2 linked regions of the Homo sapiens genome follow. The protein of the gene in region 1 purifies or fractionates together with the protein of each later gene. This does not show direct contact. Each region holds a gene or a part of one and is shown in the gene's direction. Other genes may lie near its edges.

Region 1 (3,654 bases):
AGGCAGAGGTTGCAGTGAGGCATTATGCCACTGCACTATAGCCTGGGTGACAGCAGAGTGAGACTCTGTCTCATTAAAAAAGACCTTAAAGGCAGGCCCGGTGCGGTGGCTCACGCCTGTAATCTCAGCACTTTGGGAGGCCGAGGCGGGTGGATCATGAGGTCAGGAGATCGAGACCATCCTGGCTAACACAGGTGAAATCCCATCTCTACTAAAAATACAAAAAAATTATCCAGGCGTGGTGGCGGGGCCTGTAGTCCCAGCTACTTGGAAGGCTGAGGCAGAATTGCATGAACCCAGGAGGCGGAGCTTGCAGTAAGCCAAGATCCCACCACTGCACTCCAGCCTGGGTGACAAAGCGCGACTCTGTCTCGAAAACAAACAAACAAAACAAAACAAAAAACATCTTAAAGGCAATTACAAAGGAATTCAGCGGTGTTTGGTCCTGTTCTCGTCAGTTTTCAAGAATGGAACAAGGCTGGGTGTGGTGGCTCATGCCTGTGTAATCCCAGCACTTCAGGAGGTCAAGGTGGGAGGAACACTTGAGCCCAGGAATTTGAGATAGGCCTGGGCAACATGACAAAAACCTATCTCTACAAAAAATGCAAATATGGTCGTAGCTACTCAGGAGGGTGAGGTGGGAGGATCACTCAAGCCCAGGAAGGTCAGGGCTGCAGTGAACCGTGATCCTACCACTGCACTCCAGCCTGGGTGACCGAGTGAGACCTTGTCTTAAAAAAAAAAAAAAAAAAAAAAAAAGGAACAAGCGGTTTTACAGTGGAACCATAATCTTAGAATTAGAAGGATCTTAAAGGAAATTCTGGAACCTCCTCTTACTTCACAGATAATGAAAGTTAGGCCAAAGTATTCAAGTAACCTTTACCAAAATCAGTCACAGGGCAGTTTAGTGGCAGAGGGCAGGGGCAATAACGCCATATTTACTTTGGTTGTTATATAGTTGCTTTCTTCTAAGGAATCTAAACTAAGTAGAACTAAAAAGTTGTAACTTTTATCATGTAGTTGAAGACATTACAGTGAAATGTGAAGAGAATGAGAGTGAGTTTGGTCTTTTGTAGGGAGAAAAAGGACAGCTTTTTTTTTTTTTTTAAGCATTTGAGAGAAACTATTGTGAAGCTTTGAAGCTTCGTTGACAATAATTCTTAGAGTATGTCTTTGAAAGAGCTAAGATATGTTTTCCTATACTAGAGCTTTTCATTCCTGTTTCCAGGGCATTACTTTACCTATTTTTGTTATGTCAGGCCACAGTGGTCTTCGGTTGGTTTCCTGAACATGCCATGTTTATTTCTGTCTAGACAGGTTCCTTACATTAAATAGCCCATGTGTTCATTTGTCATTCATTTGTTACTTCTTAAGGGAAGCCTTTAAGGTTCTACATTACAGGCTGGGCGCGGTGGCTCACGCCTGTAATCCCAGCACTTTGGGAGGCCAAGGTGGGTGGATCACGAGGTCAAGAGTTCGAGACCAGTCTGACCAACATAGTGAAACCCTTTTTCTTGGAGCCGAGATCACATCACTGCATTCCAGCCTGGGCAACAGGGCGAGACTCTGTCTCAAAAAAAAAAAAAAAAGATTCTACATTACATACCCTTCAACTCCTTCATATTACATTTATCCATACATTTATTTGGTTTGTCTCTTTAGCTTCTCTGTAAACCTTATTAATACAGATACCGTGTCTGTTTTTCATTCCTCTCAGTGCCAAGCTTAATGCCTGGCACATAATTGGGTGCTGAACAAATACTTGTTAAGTGAATGAATGAATATTTTGTATTAATACTGAATTAGAGAAATATTTTTATTTTTGAAAGTAAAGGATAATTTGAAAAAATTTCAAATTGCAGCTAAGGACTTTCCTTTTTTTTGAGACCAAGTTTTGCTCTTGTTGCCCAGGCTGGAGTGCAATGGCCTGATCTCGGCTCACTGCAACCTCTGCTTCCTGGGTTCAAGTGATTATCCTGCCTCAGCCTCCTGAATAGCTGGGATTATAGGCATCCACCACCACGCCTGGCTAACTTTGTATTTTTAGTAGACACGGGGTTTTACCATGTTGGTCAGGCTGGTCTCGAACTGGTGACCTCAGGTAATCCACCCACCTCGACCTCCCAAAGTGCTGGGATTAGGGCGTGAGCCACTCTGCCTGGCTAGGACTTTTCAAACTAAGGAGTTTGTGTCTTAGAGATGGTAACATAGGTACAGTACTTAGAATTTTGGAGTCAACAGGTAGTTCAGAGGTTATGTATTTCTGTTCTAATTTTTCAGGTGAAGAAACTGACCATTTGATAGGTTGTGAACAACGCTAGTCACCTAAAGCTGAAAAGTGTCATTAACTTCTGCTACTTAGATAATAGAAGTTACAATTATATATTAATTGACAAATATTAAAACCATACTAAAGTTAGCTATGTGGAAGGATGGCCAATAGTTTAGTATCATTGTTACATTAAGAATCACAAATAGCTGGCACGGTGGCTTACGCCTGTAATCCCAGCACTTTGGGATGCCTAGGCGGGCGGATCACCTGAGGTCAGGAGTTCAAGACCAGCCTGACCAACATGGAGAAACCCCGTTTCTACTAAAAATATAAAATTAGTTGGGTGTGGTGGCACATGCCTGTAATCCCAGCTACTCAGGAGGCTGGGGCAGTAGAATCCCTTGAACCTGGGAGGCAGAGGTTGCAGTGAGCCGAGATCACGCCACTGCACTCCAGCCTGGGGGACAGGGCAAGACTCTGTCACGAGAAAAAAAAAAAGTAAAAGCATACACTGAGCAAGTGATTTTTTAAAAAATTCATATTACAGGCCGGGCACAGTGGCTCATGCATGTAATCCCAGCACTTTGGAAGGCCGAGGTGGGTGAATCACCTGAGGTCGGGAGTTCGAGACCAGCCTGACCAACGTGGAGAAACCCTGTCTCTACTAAAAATATAAAATTAGCCGGGTGTGGTGGCGCATGCCTGTAATCTCAGCTACTCAGGAGGCTGAGGCAGGAGAATCGCTTGAACCCAGGAGGCGGAGGTTGTGGTGAGCCGACATGGTGCCATTGCACTCCAGCCTGGGCAACAACAGTGAAACTCTGTCTCAAAAAAAAAAAAAAAATTAATATTATAATTAAGTAATCTAAGCACCATTGCACTCCAGCCTGGGCAACAAGAGCGAAACTCCATCTCAAAAAAAAAAAAAAAGAATCACAAATAGCCATCCTCCCATATAGTTGTGGGTTCTGAAACTAATACAGGGTTCACATCTAATAAGTGACATTTAAAATACACTTATAGGTCTGGTGTCCTCTGGCTTATGCCTGTATTTCCAGCACTTTGGGAGGCTGAAACGGGCAGATCACTTGAGCTCAGGAGTTTGAGACCAGCTTGGGCAATATGGCAAAACCTCATTTACAATAAAAATTAAAAAAATAAAATACACTTATAAATAGCTGTGCAAATTCCATAAAGGGCTTAATGGAATTAAGTTAGTTATGTAGTATATCCTATATCATGGATTACTACAGAGCTATTTACTATACACATACTTTGTTTCTTTCTTTCTTGCTACTTTGGAGGTAAGAGGGCCTTGATAATTATTGGTGTTTTTTTTGTTTGTTTGTTTGTTTGTTTTTAAGATGGAGTCTCTCGGTCTG
Region 2 (3,057 bases), on another chromosome or scaffold:
GTGGTGGCTCCTGCCTGTAATCCCAGCTACTCAGGAGGCTGAGGCAGGAGAATCACTTGAAACCAGGAGGCAGAGGTTGTGGTGAGCTGAGATCGCGCCATTGCACTCCATCCTGGGCAACAAAGCAAAACTCCGTCTCAAAAAAAAAAAAATTGCAGAATGGGCCGGGCATGGTGGTTCACACCTGTAATCGCAGCGCTTTGGGAGGCTGAGGTGGGTGGAAACCCCATCTCTACTAAAAACACAGGAGGCGGAGGTTGCAGTGAGCCGAGATCGCACCACTGCAGTCCAGCCTGGGCAACAGCGAGACTCCATCTCAAAAAAAAAAAAAATTGCAGAATATCTCCCCGAGGTGTTTTCTGAATCTGTAGGCTCTGAGAACATGTAGGATTCACTCCTGTGGCATAATTTACAGAAGTGTTTCCCTTGTGGACTGCTGGTTCTGAAAAGCTGACATCCCCGCAATCATGGGCCTCCTGAGCTCTGCTTACACCACGCTGACCGGTGTTTCCTCTTTGGCCAGGGTGAGGACCCTTTCACCAGTGAAACTGTTGATCCAGAAATGGAAGGAGATGACAATTTAGGAGGTGAGGATAAGAAAGAGACACCTGAGGAGGTGGCCGCGGACGTCTTAGCAGAGGTGATTACAGCAGCAGTGAGGGCCGTAGATGGGGAAGGAGCGCCCGCTCCAGAGAGCAGCGGGGAGCCGGCTGAGGACGAAGGCCCCACGGACACAGCGGAGGCCGGTAGTGATCCTCAAGCCGAACAGCTGCTGGAAGAGCAGGTGCCCTGTGGAACGGCACATGAGAAGGGCGTCCCCAAGGCCAGAAGTGAGGCTGCAGAGGCTGGAAATGGCGCCGAGACAATGGCAGCAGAGGCAGAAAGTGCCCAAACCAGAGTTGCTCCTGCCCCAGCTGCCGCGGATGCTGAAGTGGAACAAACTGATGCAGAGTCTAAAGACGCTGTTCCCACAGAATGATGCTCATTTCCCTGTTCCAGGGAAGGCGTTGGGATGATGGATGCGTTGGTCTTTCTCCCTTGGTTTGTAAGCAGTACAAGGGCGTGTGCTCCCAGAATATGCTGTAATCTAATTTTGGTGAAGAGACCCAGCGTTTCCTCCTGAGCAGTGCCTCTCACGGCTTGTCTCATGCAGTCGTGTGGCTTCTTGCCCAGGTTTCAAAGCTGAAGTACATTGTCCTTAGCGGCTGTAACATGTCTCTTGACAGTAGTGCACTTGGAATAATAAAGGTTGGGTGATTATATCTTGATGATACATTACTTGTTCAATACAGCCACTGATGGAATGCTTCCTTTTTTATTTTTTTCCTTAATTTTTTTTTTTATTTGGTTGGGAACAGCTGAATACTAGGAATATATCTTGCTCTATAGAGGATTTTTTTTTGTATGTTTCAAGCTTCAGCCTTTAACCTATACCTTTGTAGTGCACCATATGGTGTGTGACTTTCACAGGACTTCGCAGCACCTGGTTCACATGTGGCACTGACCGCGTCACATCCACGCACTCCCAAAGGCCAGAAGTATCTGACCGACCTACGCCACTGGAAACACACCCACCGCAACCTCAAGAACCAGACTGTGCAGAGGGCATTGCGTCCCAATCTTTAGTCCTTGCTGAATCAGTTCTCTAATATTTTACCTCATTTGTGTTCCACCTCTAGATTACTTCAGGTTTTTTTCCTTTAAAATTAGTTACTACCACTCAAATGTATTTACAAAGAGAATTTGGCCAGGCACGGTGATGCATACCTATAATCCCAGCACTTCGGGAGGCCGTGGTGAGAGGATAGCTTAAGCCCAGGAGTTCAAGACCAACCTGGACAACATAGCAAGACCCCATCTCTTAAAAAAAAAGGAAAGAAAACTTGATGTGATTGCCATAGGTGGAATAATCCAACATAAATTGCCATAGATAGAAGGTATCTGTAATATATATATATATATATAAAATGAAATATATGTTTCATTTTAGAGAAATAACTATTACTTTAGATCTTTCCAAATCTGAGAAAGGGAGGCTAGCATGTGTTCAAGGTTAGCACGCAACAGAATTTCCTAAAATCAGAAGAATTGGAAGATCCTCCCCTTTTGAAATGGCCCTGCTGTGTCAGTTTCCCTGTGGCCTTTTGAACTGTACATCTCACATGTTGGGAAACGCTGGCCACTGGGAAATCATTAGAAAGGAGGCTGTAGAATATTTGCCGAGCCTCTACTGTATACCAGGGGCTAACTCACCAAGCACATTCTAGGAATTGGGCCCTGCTCATGAGGAGCCTTAGTGGAGATTCCAGGTGAATATTTATGAAAAAGTCAACATTAGAACTGAAAATGGAAATAAACTGCTTGAAAAGACGATGGTGCCTCTGGGTCATTTCTGCTCAGCATCCGTTTGTGTTGTGTAGATGCGTCTTAATCGCAGGGTGAGCATGCCTTTTAAGCTTGTTCTCTTAAGGCAAAAATGTCGGTAGCATTAAACAGTAGTGCAGAAAAACATCACTAGTGGAACTGCTTTATTTCCTTAATTTTCTTTTTTTTTTCTTTTTTTTTTTTTTTTTGAGACAGTCTTACTCTGTTGCCCAGGCTGGAGTGCAGTGGCGTGATCTTGGCTTACTGCAACCTCTGCCTCCCAGGATTACAGGCATGAGCTACTGCACCTGGCTCTCCCCTACCCCACACCTTTTTTTTCTTCTTATAAAAATCCAAGACCCGGCCAGGCATGGTGGCTCACACCTGTATTCCTGGCACTTTAGGAGACCAACGCAGGTGGATCAGTAGAGGTCGGGAGTTCAAGACCAGCCTGGCCAACATGGCAAAACCCTGTCTATACCAAAAATACAAAAATTAGCTGGGTGTGGTGGCACACACCTGTAATCCCAGCTGCTGGGGAAGCTGAGGCAGAAGAATCGCTTGAACCAGGGAGGCAGAGGCTGCAGTGAGTCGAGGTTGCGCTACTGCACTCCAGCCTGGGCAACAGAGCAAGAATTTGTCTCAAAAAAATAAAATATCAGGCCAGGTGTGGTGGCTCATGCCTGTAATCCC

The links.
Region 2: the proteins of PDS5A (region 1) and AKAP8 purify together in Homo sapiens (affinity purification with mass spectrometry, with the first as the bait; one large-scale study listed by BioGRID). This does not show direct contact.

What each region holds. Positions count from the first base shown.
Region 1 is NC_000004.12:39,967,896-39,971,549, reverse strand, and holds part of PDS5A (sister chromatid cohesion protein PDS5 homolog A), read left to right. Parts: intron 1-3,654. UniProt on the Homo sapiens protein: Probable regulator of sister chromatid cohesion in mitosis which may stabilize cohesin complex association with chromatin. May couple sister chromatid cohesion during mitosis to DNA replication.
Region 2 is NC_000019.10:15,352,837-15,355,893, reverse strand, and holds the end of AKAP8 (A-kinase anchor protein 8), read left to right. Parts: intron 1-523; coding exon 524-979; 3' UTR 980-2,509; downstream 2,510-3,057. UniProt on the Homo sapiens protein: Anchoring protein that mediates the subcellular compartmentation of cAMP-dependent protein kinase (PKA type II).